Linked DNA regions of Homo sapiens. The protein of the gene in region 1 purifies or fractionates together with the protein of each later gene. This does not show direct contact. Each region holds a gene or a part of one and is shown in the gene's direction. Other genes may lie near its edges.

What was found.
Region 2: the proteins of TP53TG5 (region 1) and FNTB purify together in Homo sapiens (affinity purification with mass spectrometry, with the first as the bait; 2 studies listed by BioGRID). This does not show direct contact.
Region 3: the proteins of TP53TG5 (region 1) and PSME3IP1 purify together in Homo sapiens (co-immunoprecipitation; 3 studies listed by BioGRID and IntAct, with this or other methods). This does not show direct contact.

The regions. Positions count from the first base shown.
Region 1 is NC_000020.11:45,371,543-45,375,689, reverse strand, and holds the end of TP53TG5 (TP53-target gene 5 protein), read left to right. Parts: exon of another isoform or gene 1-137; coding exon 138-651; exon of another isoform or gene 652-1,395; coding exon of another isoform or gene 1,396-1,396; intron 1,397-1,678; coding exon 1,679-1,783; 3' UTR 1,784-3,133; downstream 3,134-4,147. UniProt on the Homo sapiens protein: May play a significant role in p53/TP53-mediating signaling pathway.
Region 2 is NC_000014.9:65,038,353-65,046,230, forward strand, and holds part of FNTB (protein farnesyltransferase subunit beta), read left to right. Parts: intron 1-2,437; coding exon 2,438-2,567; intron 2,568-5,958; coding exon 5,959-6,091; intron 6,092-6,335; exon of another isoform or gene 6,336-6,417; intron 6,418-7,878. Other genes in the region: CHURC1-FNTB protein, read left to right, coding at 2,438-2,567, 5,959-6,091. UniProt on the Homo sapiens protein: Essential subunit of the farnesyltransferase complex. Catalyzes the transfer of a farnesyl moiety from farnesyl diphosphate to a cysteine at the fourth position from the C-terminus of several proteins having the C-terminal sequence Cys-aliphatic-aliphatic-X.
Region 3 is NC_000016.10:57,151,966-57,155,039, reverse strand, and holds the end of PSME3IP1 (PSME3-interacting protein), read left to right. Parts: intron 1-532; coding exon 533-750; 3' UTR 751-2,574; downstream 2,575-3,074. UniProt on the Homo sapiens protein: Promotes the association of the proteasome activator complex subunit PSME3 with the 20S proteasome and regulates its activity.

The DNA.
Region 1 (4,147 bases):
TCTGGGCAGTAGAGAAGTTTCTTTGCAGGCCCCTCTAGCCTTTCTTAACAGGCTCCCCTGAGCTGGCTACATAGCAACTGTCTCGGGAACCAGGGCCTCGGTCCTGCTGTGCTGACTGCCTTTCCTCTCCCTGCCAGGGAAAACAGTGCCTGCAATAAAACAAAACAAAATAATGAAGAGTTCCAGGAGATCGGGTGCTCCGAGAAGGAACTCAAGTCCAAGAAATTAGAGTCCACAGGGGACCCTAAGAAAAAAGAGTACAAGGAGTGGAAGTCCCAGGTGCAGTCAGGGATGAGGAACAAGGAGAAAACGTCATTGGCGGCAATGCCACGGAAAGAAAAGCATATAGAGCCTGAGGTTCCAAGGACATCGAGGGATGATAGCTTGAACCCTGGAGTCCAGGGGAGGCAACCACTCACCGAGGGCCCCCGAGTCATCTTCATTAAGCCCTACCGCAATAGAACTCCCATGGGGCACATGAAGCAGCTGGATGTAGCCGACCAGTGGATCTGGTTTGAGGGGCTGCCCACACGAATCCACCTCCCGGCGCCCAGGGTGATGTGCAGATCCTCCACCCTGCGTTGGGTCAAGCGCCGCTGCACCCGCTTCTGCTCCGCATCACTTGAAATGCCTATGTGGCATCCATACAAGGTGGGTGTGACAACAACACTGCCAGGCTAGGTGAGATGCAAGCCCCAAGCCAGGCCCAGAGCTGGGCCCCAGAGTCAGGGTTCAGGATCTGGAGTCTTGAGTGGTGTGTGGCTGGTAGTGCTGGGAGGCTCCGCCTTCATGTCCAGAGAGGGGGAAGCCTTAGACCAACATCATACAGAAGGGTAGTGACTAGGTTGAGGCGTCTCAGGATACAGCTAGGAGATGTGTGGAAGGAGGGGCACTGAAGTGAGCCATCTCACTGCCTGAAGGCCTTAGCAGAGGTGGAAACTGCTGTGGCTCTGAATCTCACAGTCAGAGGCCTACATAAGTGGGTTTAAGGATTTCCAAATGTGGGAGGGGGGAGATGGTCAAGTAGGGCTTTGCTGCATCCCATTCCCTCTAAGATCAATTCAACTCTCTATTTATGTTTGATTGATTCATGCCTCAAATAAGATTTACTCTGAACAGGCTAGGCATGGTGGCTCACGCCTGTAATCCCAGCACCTTGGGAGGTCGAGGCAGGAAGACTGCTTGAGGCCAGGAGTTCAAGACCATCCTGGGCAACATAATGAGACACTGTCTCTACAAAAAATTTAAAAATTAGCCAGATGTGGTGCCTTGCGCTTGTAGTATCAGCTACTCAGGAGGCTGAGGTCGGAGGATCGCTTAAGCCCAGGAGTCGAGGCTGCAGTGAGCTGTGACTTCGCCACTGCACTCCAGCCTGGGCAAGAGAGCAAGACCCTGTCTTAAAAAAAAAGAAAGGAAAAAAAGATTTACTCTGAGCAGAAAGTTCCTTAGCAAAAAAAGAAGAAAATACCGCAGCCCTTTCGTGGGAGAATGAAAGTCCCACGAAAGGAAGGGGGTGAGTGCCCACCGGGTCTAGCTTAAAGGGAGGCTTTTCCTTTTTAGCAAAGGCATTTCCAACCTACCAGACACCACAGCACCCTTGTCCCTGCGCCCGCTCCCCAAACGACCAGCGCCCCCTGGGGACAGTCTTAGCGCCTAACACCGAGGTTTCTGCTGGCAGGTTGATGTGACCTGGACGAGAGCCAGAGGTGCGAGCAGAGGGTGGAGATCGCGCCATCAGCTGAAGGGGAGGAATGGGTGGCGAAATTCACGAGTCTACAAATAAGATCTTCCATATGGCACCTAAGACGAATACTGCTTACTCTGCCTGTTTGTCTGGGGCTGGGAAGGATGAAGGAAAGAGGCCTTCGGTAGAGGGAGCCTGTGTCGCGACTTCAGGCTTCCCCCACCCCCACCCCGAGGCCCCTAAGGTCAGTCTAGAACCAAAGAAGCCAGCGAGCAGCACCCCTCCCCCACCTCCGCGAGCTAGTCTCCTGAGTGGCGCGCTCTGTGAAGTCAGGGCGCTCGTGTGCTTCCTGGGTGCAAAGTGCCTCACAATCGCCCCGCGAGCTCGCAAGAGGAAACCGCGGCGCGGAGGCAGCAAGTAACTTGCCCAGGCTCACTCAGCTAGAAAGTGGCAGGAGCAAGGGCTCCTGGTTGCTCCCCATTCCATTTTCCCAAGAAAGGGAAAAGGCGAAATGAGAGCCTGCTCAGAAGTCACGAGGCAGGCGGAATAGCCCCAGCACCCTGTAGGTCATGCGCGTGCATTGCGACCTGATTGTCAAAAATTGATTGTCAAAAACTGATTGCACTGTGGCTGGTGTCAAAAAGTGGATGTCAGCTGGGCCTCCAAATGTGTCCTGCCTTGGTCACAGATCACAGAAGGCACCGGATCAGGAGGGGGAGCTGGTACTGCATCTCTACTGCTCCAGGGTGACATGGCAGGTCCACCCTCAATCTGAAGACCTCAACCCCAAGCCCTGGTCGACCCCATCTGGCCGGGGTCACCCTCTGTCGGTAGGAGTCACAGGGTCCTAACCATGCCGTTGGGGAGAGGAAAGCCAAGGGAGCCCGAGTTTTCTCCGGACGAAGACCTCCATATTCCCCAGAGGCAGGCTGCATGGAGTGGGCGCCCTCGGGAGAGCAGTGGAGCCATCGAGGGGCACAGAGCTCTCCGGGATTGGGGGTCAGGGCAGCGATGCAGATAGATCTCCAGTTTGGGACAGAGGGAGAACGATTGGATGGACTCTCCCCCCCTCCCACCCCGCCCACTCACACACTCCTCCCCACCATTACTGGGCACCAAGACTGGGCATCAGCTGCCGCGCGGACCAGCCTGGGCGGAGCCACAGCGCGGGGACTGCTTAGCACCTCATAGTGGCTGCTGCGTGCTCCCGAGCTCCTGCTCCCAGCGCAATCTTCCTGGAGCTCCCCTACGGTCGGTGCCTACCTCCGCCCCCACCACCCCGCTAATTCCCGTGCAAATTCCACCCCAGTAACCACTTTCAGCGGTCTTCCCACCCAGCTTGCACTCCAGCCCATTTCCTGAACAGTCTCCCTTGCAGTTCCCTTGCTGGGTATTTTCAATCCCATCAACTTTCGAAAATAATCTCTACTCACTCTTCCATTCCATCAACCTTTGCGTGAACTTCTGTCCTGAGTGCGCTGTCAGCGGGCAGTCAAGACAGCGCCCTCCCAGCTAAAAAATCTGACCCTTTCTGGGGAGCTCCCTTGCACTAGCCTTCGTGGGGGCCTGCCCAGGGAGCCCCAAGTGGAGGCTGGATTGGGTTGGGCCTGAGTGAGACTGGCAACTTCCACTTTGCTCCAGAGAGCCGGAGTTGGGCCCCAGTTGCCCACTGGGAACGCCACTGAATATATGGGAGGGCTGTATACGAAGGCGGGGACCCAGCATGGCCAGGGCAGCAAGGGGCAGGTCTGGGAGTGAGGGAATCCCAGCAGTACATCCTTCCACCTCATCCCACCTGCCCCGGCACTTAGGCCTCTGGCCACCTGCCTCCCACAATTCCACAACCAGGGTCTCCCCACTACCACCCTCTCTTTGTTTAACCATTTCAACCTAAAGCTCCTCCTCTGGGCCCAGTAACACAGATTTGGGGAGGAGGCCACCCTAGAAATGGCTGCTTAACAGTTAACTGGGAAAAAATTGAAGTGTTTGAATCTGATTTTATATTGAGTGACTTTTTAGAAGTCACATGACCTCTCTGAGCCTATTTCATGTTTATAAAATAGTGATACTAATGTCTGTTTCAGGGGGGTTTAAGCAAATCAAGCTTGATGTAGGAGAAGCCAGTTTGTGGGGCATTGAACAAATGTTTGGCCTTTTCCCACGCCACACCACGGCCATCATAATAAAGCCCTGTGGCCAGTCAGTCCCGGCTCCATTTCTCACTTATCAGCAGCTACCTAACTACTCACCTTTATGGAACTAGCTGCTTGTTAACAAGCCAAACGTACGTTTACATTCACAACCTTTTGCTAATATGGCATTTAGATCCCTAAGACTGTCCGTCTCACAATTGTCTGGATCACACATAAACATAACTGGAACGTGAAAAGCAGATGAGGCAGACAGGCCTAGCTTCTTACCAACTTTGTAATGGGGAAAAAGTTGTTTACTCCCAATCCTCTG
Region 2 (7,878 bases), on another chromosome or scaffold:
TGAGCCGAGATCGCACCATTGCACTCCAGCCCAGGTGACAGTGTGAGACTCCATCTCAAAATAAATAAATAAATAAAAATAATACTGCCGGGTGCAGTGGCTCATACCTGTAATCCCAGCACTTTGGGAGGCCAAGGCAGGCAGATCACGAGGTCAGGAGTTCGAAACCAGCCTGACCAACATGGTGAAACCCTGTCTTTACTAAAAATACAAAAATTAGCCGGGCGTGGTGGCATGCACCTGTAATCCCACGTACTCAGGAGGCTGAGGCAGGAGAATCACTTGAACCCAGGAGGCGGAGGTTGCAGTGAGCCAAGATTGTGCCACTGTACTCCAGCCTCGGCATCAGAGCGAGACTCTGTCTCAAAAATAAATAAATAAAAATAAAAATATTTCATTGCATGGTTCGTTTCCATCTCTTAATCCTTCTTCTTATACTTTGAGAGATTCTCTTAGTATTTATCTTCTAATCCTCTTGTTTTTATTTTTGTAATCCTATTTTTAGTTTTCCTCCCTGACTACTTTTACTTCCTGACTACTTTTTTATCTACTCTCTTGTTCTTTTCTGGGGATATTTTGTCCTCTCAATAGTCTTACTTCATATAATATTTTATCTAAAGATACAACTTTAAAAAGTTTTCTTTTGCTCCCTGTCTTATTTCCTCCAATTTATTTTTGTTTGTTTTGGTCTCCTCTTTCATAGTAGAGACTGTGGTCAAATGTCTGGTACTCTACAGCTGTCTGTTCATATTTAAGGATCCAGCACTGAAAAGCTGCTGGGGAGCTCTGCGAGAGTGGGCAGGATCAAGCCATTCATTGGGGAATTCTCAAAGCAGTGTCTGTAGGGTTTTTCCCTTGGGCTTATCAGTTCCCTCAGAGAGGAATCTTCTAAATTCCTGCTTGGGGTATGAAACTGGCAGCCTTGTGTGAAATACACAGAGGAATGGGGCTGGGGGTATTGTGTTGAGATTACTGACTCTCACGTAATCACATTTGGTACAGTGCTCCCTCCTCCTCTTAGCTTGTTGGATATTCTGGAACTCAGATCCTTTTGATTAAACCTCTGAAACTTCCCATCTTCTGCTGGATTTGAGTAGGGGACTTAAAGGTCTGATTCTTATATAAGTTTGCAACCAACAAACTTGGTTCAGACGCATTCCACTTTGTGGAGGTTCCCTGTATCTCTAATCCTGGAGCCTTTTATTGGAGCAGATCACCTTGCTTTTTGTTGCCCCTCTCCCATCCCTATCCTTTGGGTAGGAAAGGTTTCTCTATTCTACTAAGTCAGTTATTTCTTGTCCTTCTTGTGTTAGTCCATTTTGTGTCAGTATAAAGGAATACCTGAGGCTGGGTAACTTAGAAAGAAAAGAGGTTTATTTGGCTCATGGTTCTGCAGGCTGTTTAAGAAGCCATCACCACCTGGCCTAATTATAATTTTTAAAAATAACGTTTATTTTTTAATAGTATACAGGTTCATTATAAAAACTTTTTGAACAAATAGAAAAACAAAAAGGAAAAATATTACTAGTAGACCTGTACTCAAAGATCACCAGAGGCCAAGTGCGGTGGCCCATGCCTGTCATCCCAACGCTTTGGGATGCTGGGGTGGGAGGATTCCTTGAGGCCAGAAATTTAAGACCAGCCTGGGTAACATGGCAATGCCCCATCTCTACAAAAAATACAAAAAATGGTCCGGGTATGGTGGGGCACGCCCATAGTCCCAGCTACTCAGGAGGCTGAGGTGGGAGGATTGCCTGAGTCCAGGAGGTTGAGGCTGCAGTGAGCCATGATCTGCAGTCAACCTAGGTAACAGAGTTAAGACCCTGTTTCAAAAATAAAAGATCACTAGAATCAACAATCACTCTTTAATTTTATTTTAACTTGATGGTTATCACTATATATATATGTATATATATGTATATATATGTGTGTATATATATATATGTATATATATGTGTATATATGTACATATATGTATATGTATGATTTTATAACTTTTTCCCAAAGAGTAATAATTTGAATTATTATGTTTCTTACACAAGTAGGCTGTTTCTAAGTGTCTGGGTTTTTAACATTTTACAGTTTTTATTATACTTACATTTTTTGGAGACCTAGTCTCACTCTTTCACCCGGGCTGGAGCACAATGGTGTGATCATAGCTCACTGCAGCCTCGAACTCCTCGCCTCAAGTGATCTTCTTGCCTTAGTCTCCTGAGCAGCTGGGATTACACATGGGTGCCACCAGGCCCAGCTTTTTTTTTTTTTTTTTTTTGAAAAGACATTTCCAAAAGTTAATTAGTTGGCATCTTTTCATTCATAGTTGTGATGGTTCACACCTTAATCTGAGTGAACTTTTTCTCTGCCACCTAGGATGGTCCTGGTCTTGTGTACGTCCACTCACTGGCCACTCATTCTGCTTTTCTCAATCTCTTCTTAGGTGTCAGAACTGGGAAGGTGGCATTGGCGGGGTACCAGGGATGGAAGCCCATGGTGGCTATACCTTCTGTGGCCTGGCCGCGCTGGTAATCCTCAAGAGGGAACGTTCCTTGAACTTGAAGAGCTTATTAGTAAGTATCTTTTGAGCCATCCCCCTCTCAGGCCCCAGGTCATGGTGATGTGATTGTACTCAGACATGCAGGCTTCAGGAGAGTTTGGCTATGGGAAGGGCTAAGAGAGTTAGCTCTGTTCCAACACAGAGGAAGGAGTGAGCAGCTGCTCTGTCTTGGCTCCCCCTTCTGCCTTTCTGTCTTCCTGCTTAGAGCTTTTTACATAGTGTGTAGACTACATAGACTGTGTGCTGCAGACATCTGGTGTGAGCAGAGTACCTTCCTTATACTTCAGTTTCGTAGAATTAGAGGTTATCGTGTGTTATAGAAAGAACCTCCTAAGAGGAAAAGTTACAAGAAGAGCTTTGCAGCATTTCGAAACCAAACTTTTATTACCTGCTGCACTGTGTAAACATTTAGTACCTACATTTAAATGAGTTGTTTAGGCAGAGCTGGCTAATTGCATTGAGAAGGCAGCCCAACATTTATGTCTGGACCCCACGCTCCTGGCCAGTATTCAGAAGAAACTCAGAAAGCAGTCAGCTTCAGGGAGTCACTAGATTGTAGTTAAATGATCAGTGGGTGCACAAACACACACACCTCCACGGCCACCAGGGAGAAGGCATTCCCCGTCATGTCATTTGGGGAGCATGTACCCCCTGACCATGACGTCAAAGCAAACCAGCTGCAACTGACATGCACCTCCTCTCCCTGAGTTCAGATGCCAGCCTCCCGTTATGCGGCCCATCGTGAGCTTCCTGGAGAGTTTCTGTTGTACCCTGTAGACATGTAACCAGCAGTGTCTTGCCTCCACCTTCAGAAAGCCTCCCCCGGTGTAGTCTTTTTAAAGATTCATGAAGGCTTGAAGGCTCATGCTGAAACAGCCAACTTTGTATGCTGAACTTAAGAGTTTCTCAGATGTTTTAAAATCTGAACACCAATAAGGCATGAAACAAAAAAGTCCCATCTCCCAGGCAGAGATAAGGAATGTGATTAGGGAGTGCCTCAGTTATAAAGACAGTGTTCTAGATTTGAACCCTGTCCCTACTACATTTGAGACATGAGTCCTTGGGCAAATTGTCTAATCTCTTTTAGCTTGATATTTTTTTCTTTTATAAGGTAGGGATAACAATCCTTATTTTTTTAAGGTTAAAGGAGAGAACATTTATAAACAGCCTGGCACATAGTAGGTACTTAATAAATGTTAGTGTCCCTCTAACCCACAGTAATAATCTTTTTGGCACAAGGGACCAGTTTTGTGGGAGATAATTTTTCCGTGGACCTGGGGTTGGGGGTGGGACGGGGGGTGATGGCTTCAGGATGATTCAAGTACATTACATTTATTGTGTACTTTATTTCTATTATTACACTGTAATATATAATGAAATAATTATACAACTCACCATAATGTAGAATCAGTGAGAGCCCTGAGCTTGTTTTCTTTCAACTAGACAGTCCCATTTGGGGGTGATGGGAGACAGTGACAGATCATCAGGCATTAGACTCTCATGTAGAGCGTGCAACCTAGAAGCCTGGCATACACGGTTCACAGTAGGGTTTGCGCTCCTATGAGAATCTAATGCTGCTGCTGATCTGTCAGGAAGTGGAGCTCAGGCAGTAATGGGAGCAGTGAGGAGCAGCTGTAAATACAGATTAAGCTTCACTGGCTCACCCACCACTCATGTCCTGCTGTGCAGCCTGGCATGGTCTGGGGGTTAGGGACCCCTGCTCTAATCCAGACTACTCCCTTCCATTTGCTTTGGGAGAAGTAGGACCCATATCTGAAGTATGAATTCCTATAGCCCAAGGAAACAGAACAAATCCATGGGCTTAGGCACTGGAAAAAGTAAATTAGTCTGCTTAAAAACACTTAAGCCCTGCGGTAAGTAGAAATGAGGAACCGACTCCCACTGCAGCGCCTGCTTTCTCTCTGCCTGAGTAATGCTTAGCCCACTTCCATTACATGCTGGAAGCCCTGGTTCATTTAAGATCAACCGAGGATATATTAGTACCTGAACCTGCAGTACAGTGTTTTCTGTCTCTTTTAAGCATTTGTGACTGTGACTCTCTATGGGCAGGTGTTGCCTTGAAGAGGGAATAATCTAAACAACAGCTTTTAGGGGAGGGCTGGCCCCCACTTCCATCAAGGGTCCCAGTGGCTCCTTTCAGGACCTTTACCTAGTAAGACTCTAGAAACAGGAAGTACCCTCCCCTGTACCCTTTCAGTTGAGTGAGGCAGCTCTGTAAGTCCGTGGCTGGAACGGCCTAGGTGGTCTAGGGAGGGAAATGGAAATGTCATATCTGCTCAGCCAGTTGGTTCTGCTCATTCTGAGGGACCAAACCCATGACTATCTTGATCTTTGTAGTAGAGTGTGTTTAGAAAACTTGTAGATAAGCAAGGAATGGTGGTATCGTGTGTGACCGCTGAGTGACATCAAGACCAAGACCTATTTTACAGCTTCAAAGTAAAAGATTTTCTTATATCAGCCACAGACTGGGCAGAGTTGTCATTTGGTAATTAGAATGAATGGCTTCTGCTTTCAGGCCTGCTAGTGACTTGCTAAGAGACCTTGGGTAAATTTCCCCAGGTGCCAAGTAAAAGTCAGGAGCAGTTTGAGATCATCTGATGAAATGTAGTACCAGGCCGGGCACGGTGGCTCACGCCTGTAATCCCAGCACTTTGGGAGGCCGAGGCGGGTGGATCATGAGGTCAGGAGATCGAGACCATCCTGGCTAACAAGGTGAAACCCCGTCTCTACTAAAAATACAAAAAATTAGCCGGGCGCGGTGGCGGGCGCCTGTGGTCCCAGCTACTCGGGAGGCTGAGGCAGGAGAATGGCGTGAACCCGGGAAGCGGAGCTTGCAGTGAGCCGAGATTGCGCCACTGCAGTCCGCAGTCCGGCCTGGGCGACAGAGCGAGACTCCGTCTCAAAAAAAAAAAAAAAAAAAAAAAAAAAAAAAAGAAATGTAGTACCAAATTCCATTTATCTGCTTTTAATAAACTCCCCGGAGCAGGGAAGTAATGAGAAATGAGCTACTGGTAGTCTTGCCTTCAATTTCCAACTTAAGCCATGTTTATTAAGAGACTTTGAAGGTCTCCTTACAAACCAGCTTGGCCTCTTTATCTTCTCAGCACTGGCACTGCTTTGGAACCCAGGAAAAGGTAGTTGTCTGCCAGGCATTGAGCAGAGATCAGTGCTGGATGCCTCTACAGCGTTGGCTTAAATGCTTCACTCTGTGTCTATGGCAGTGTGGGGAGGGAAGGAAAGAAAACCAGAGCACCAAAACTAGAGTGCCAAGAAGCCACAAGATGGGAAACCCTCCATCCCACAGATTGACTCCTGGAGATTCTGTCGGGCTGGATTTTGTCTCTTTTAGCCTACAACTGCCTTTCCCATCTGTGTCTCCTCAGCAATGGGTGACAAGCCGGCAGATGCGATTTGAAGGAGGATTTCAGGGCCGCTGCAACAAGCTGGTGGATGGCTGCTACTCCTTCTGGCAGGCGGGGCTCCTGCCCCTGCTCCACCGCGCACTGCACGCCCAAGGTGAGCCTGGGGAGCTGTTCACTTGGGGCTGGATGATTTCCCTCCACTACTCACAAAGTCTGGAAGCCCAGCGTGCTTTTTTAGAGGGGTTGAAATGAGCTCTGTCTATCCTGGATTTTGAGTGCCCAGTGTGGAACCTCATGCCGTGGGGCATGCGAATGCAGAGTAAGATTTAGTTTCATTGGTTTAGTGTCATTCTTTGCTTCTTCAAATTGGCTGCGACAGAATGAGCTTCCTTGAAATTGCTACGGGGAGCGGGGAGGAAGTGGGCGCTGCTTCTGCGTTATCTGGAAGGAGCAGCCCACTCCTGTCCTGGGCTCTGTGGTGATTGCCACCTCCTCTGGGTGCAGGGCAGAGCTGAAAACCCTCAGTGTTGCAACAGTCACTGTTGCAACAGCAACAGGAAAGGCAACTGCGTAAAGGGGTAGAGAACCAGAACCCATGTGTAGGGGTGGGTTGTAGGGGTGGGTTGCCCCTACACCATGGAGAAGAGACTCGCCGTGTCTGACTGGCTGCAGAGTTGTCACTATTAGAAATGTTTTATTTTACATTCATTGAATAAGCCTAAATGGGAGTTTGTTCCACCTGCACCATTGGAGTAGAGAAATCCACGTTCGTTTCTGTGGGGTCTCAAATGGGAACGCAAAACCGAAGTAGTTAGTGAGCAAAAAGTCTGGGAACATTCTCTCTCTATCTCTTGAAACCTCAGTCTGCCTGCTAACTCCTGCACCATCTTTCTGGTGTACTTGATGTGAGAGCAGGTGTCTCTGAGTAGACCTGTGGGAGAGAGGAAGTCATGGGGCCCTGCTGGTTGCTGATCTGTTTTTGGAATGAGATCCCTGGGTCCAAAGAGAAGCTGTTCTTCGGACTTAGTTGGATAATGTAACTGCTCAAATGTAAAAGATGAGATTCTTTTCTGCCCCTCCCCATACTTTTTTTTCCTGTTTCTGAGCCCCCCACCCCCCGTCTTCCCCCCTCCCCGCCGCCCCCGAGATGGAGTCGTGCTCTGTCTCCCAGGCTGGAGTGCAGTGGCACGATCTTGGCTCACTGCAGCCTCCACCTCCCAGGTTCAAGCAATTCTCCTGCCTCAGCCTCCTGAGTAGCTGGGACTACAGGCGCGTGCCACCACACCTGGCTAATTTTTGTATTTTTAGTAGAGACAGGGTTTCACCATGTTGGACAGGCTGTTCTTGAACTCCTTACCTCAGGTGATCCGCCCACTTCGGCCTCCCAAAGTGCTGGGATTATAGGCGTGAGCCACCGCACCCGGCCCTGAGCCTCATTATTTAGTTTCTTAATTTCCTTTGAGTTGTTGAGTTGTGACCATTTCTGACACTGAATTAAAGTAAGCAGAGCCTCTGTCCCATTTTCCCGGCCTGGGCCCACTGGGCTTTAGGTGTCAGTATTAAGGCATATAAGGCACTTACCCTTGGAACACAGCAAGTGCACTGTCAGCAAGTGCACTGACTTTGGAGCCTGCACAGTCTCTGCCTTGACCACCAGTAGGGAAGTCAGGAATTCCCCAAGTCAAACATTTTTTATTTTAGTATTATTTTTTTTTGAGACGGAGTTTCACTCTTGTTGCCCAGGCCGGAGTGCAATGGATCACTGCAACCTCTGCCCCCTGGGTTCAAGTAATTCTCCTGCCTTAGCCTCCTAAATAGCTGGGATTATAGGCATGCACCACCACGCCCAGCCAATTTTGTATTTTTAGTAGAGACAGGGTTTCTCCATGTTGGTCAGGCTGGTCTCGAACTCCTGACCTCAGGTGATCTGTCCGCCTTGGC
Region 3 (3,074 bases), on another chromosome or scaffold:
AAATGTTTAAAAAGAAAAGAATGTTATTTTGTAGCTGATGTTTGGCCTTAAAATTGTATCTGTGCTAGCTGGCTTATTGGTCAGTAAATAAGAAATGGTGTAATACGCTGAGAACTTAATGGAATTGTTAATATTGCTCACAGTGTCTCTCTTAATCTGTTTTCAGATTCTCACGGCTGTGTGAGCACAGGGAAATCAAAGCACTCTAGGCTACACTCCAGAGTAGCTTGTTCTCCAACTCGGATTTGATGGGGAACAAGAGAGTGTAGTCAGGCTCTGGGGTTAAAAAGACCTTGATTCAAGTCTCAGCTCTGCCCCTTTACTTTCAGAAGTCCTTTCACCTCCTGGAGCCTCCCTTCCTCCTTCAGTTTCCCCATCTCTAAAACGAGGGTGATGATAGTATTGGCTGCATAGCATTGTTCTAAGGCTCCTCTGTGGGAAAATCCCTTGGTACAGTGCCTGGCACATGGTAAGTCAGTCCCCAACTTTGGAAAAGGGTGATGAAGTGACAGTCTTTCCCCTTTTATTGCAGAGCCCTCATCCTGCAAGTCTCTCGGAAACACCTCCCTGAGTGGCCCCTCCATCCACTGCCCCTCTGCTGCAGTATGTATCGGCATCCTCCCAGGCCTGGGTGCCTACTCTGGGAGCAGCGACTCCGAGTCCAGCTCAGACAGCGAAGGCACCATCAATGCCACCGGAAAGATTGTCTCCTCCATCTTCCGAACCAACACCTTCCTCGAGGCCCCCTAGTTTCTCCGTCCCTACACAGGGAGCTCCTCCCCAAGGGTAGATCGGACCGTTCATGCTGCCTATAGGCATTATGTCCCTCAAAAAAAAACTCCTTTGCCTGCATCCTGTGTACAACATGACATTTTTAACCAATCCAATCTAAAAATGTGCCAGAATCCACCTGTGGCCCGAATCGTGTTTGGTTCCTCTTTCTACTCCACTGCAGATGACCAAACCTGTCCCGCTGCCACTTTCCTCACTGATATTGGGAGGAGGGCAAGGCCCAGCCGAAGTTCCACTAAAAATGCCCCAGGAGAATAGGCACCGGCTGGCTTGCCAAAGGGTTTGGGTTTTATTGCTTTCTGTTTTTTCTTTTCCCGACAGCACAAAGAAGTAAGGGCAGTTATTGGACAGGTGTTATTTAAACATTCTATTGTAAATGAATGTGTTGTTTGGTTCTACTGCATTGTGGAGCATGCGGGGGAAGAGAACTGACCCAGGTAGTGAAATGGAGCCCTTCCCTGGAACTAACCAGTCCTTGATGTTGTGTGACTAAGTAAAGATGATAAACCCCATCTGCTGGGGGTGTCACTTCACACTCGGCATGCATTGTGAAAGCTTTCCATACCCTTGGCCATTCCCTCTCTCCTCTCTCTCCAACCCCATTTATGCAGGAAGGGACTGCTAACAAGAACGCTTCCATCTCAAACCTTTTCTCTGCCTGGGAAATTATTTTATGTTTGTTTTTGAAATAAAGGATTTAGTTTAAGATTCTAAATTTTAGAGAAACAAACGTAGGCCTTGTTTACTAATAGCCAGACATCAGAACTGCAGGTAGGTATGTTAATGAGATGACTTATTTCTGGCAGCTCCTGGAATCCTAATATTGTAAATGAGTGGGACACACTTGCATATTGTGACCATTCTATTGAGGCCCTTCTCTGTTTAATGCATATTATACTTGTGCTTTTAACTGTGGAATCTATTTCTAACCTAAAGGTGCTGCCCTAGTACTTTTCTTTGCTGCCTCTGCTGCTCTTTTTCCTTTCCAAACAGCAACTCTGAGGCCATGAGCAGCCAAAAACTAGAGGTACTGCTCCACCTCGTCTCATAAAGGGAAACGGGCTCATCCCTTGGATTCTGGAGGAGGGAGAGGGAGATGGTGTGGAGGCCTCGAGGACAGAGATAGACATGAGCTTTGACAACAATCTGTAGGCTCTCCTGCTTTAGAATAAGCATGTACCATTCTTTATCCATTCCCCTTATTCCTACATCAATTGTTTTTACTTTCTTGGGTGTGAGACTGAGTGAGACACACACAAAATGTGTTGACACTGTGATGCCGGCAGGCAGAGCAGCTACTGACTTTGAACATGGGCAGAGAGGCCCCTGGATCTCATCCAGCCCACTCCTTTTCCCCTTCCAGTACAGTGACACTCTGGTGCCCATTGGCAGATGGCGACTTCCCTGCACCCATAACTGATGCTTTGTGAATTCTTCCTCCTTTTCAGAACTACTCTGTGCTAATTGTTCTGCCAGTATGGGCGCATCAGCTCCATCCTGACAAACAAGACATTTAGGTAAAACTTTGTAGGCACCTTCTGCTTCTCTGCTTCATTGTTCCTGTGATAGTCCTGTTGTTATTACAGCATGTACCCAAAACAGCCTCACATTGTTACAGGAGGCAGGCCAGGACATCAAAGTCATCATCTTTATGTGGCATGACTCTTAAGAGGCCATTACTGTATCTCATGGCCTCTTGATGTGGAAAGAAGTTGACAGAGGGTTGCAGGGTTTAAAAACATCCATTAACATGAAAGCTAATAAACCTGTCAGAGAACAAGATCTTGTTTTTCCTCTACTGAATATTGTGCTTCCACCTCTCCCCATGTCTCTCAGCTAGATTGTGTTGAGAAGGTTGAGTGAGACTCTTCAGACTGTGACTTACCTTCTGGTGTCTCAGGAGAGACTGAGAATCACTGGTGATCATTGCATCATATTCCATTGTCCCCATCAGCACAGAGCTCTGGAACTGAAACAGAGCTTCTGTAGCAACCACAGCTAACAAAGCAGCGTCTGATCTGACCAACAGAGGAAGCAGCCTTGGAAAGTATCTAGTGTAGACCTTGAAGTTCAAACCCAAAGGAGAATAGAATAAACAGGGCTGGAAGGAAACACTGCTTTAAACTGTAAAGTGTAGTACTCCTGCCTTAATAATTGGGATTTTATGGTAATTACGGGACAAAAACAAAGTTTGGCATGGGTTTCTTTAAGCTCGCTTACTTTGTTCTGAGTGGTAGGATTCTTACAATTCTCCAGCCATGTGAGGGAGAAAGCTAATAGGA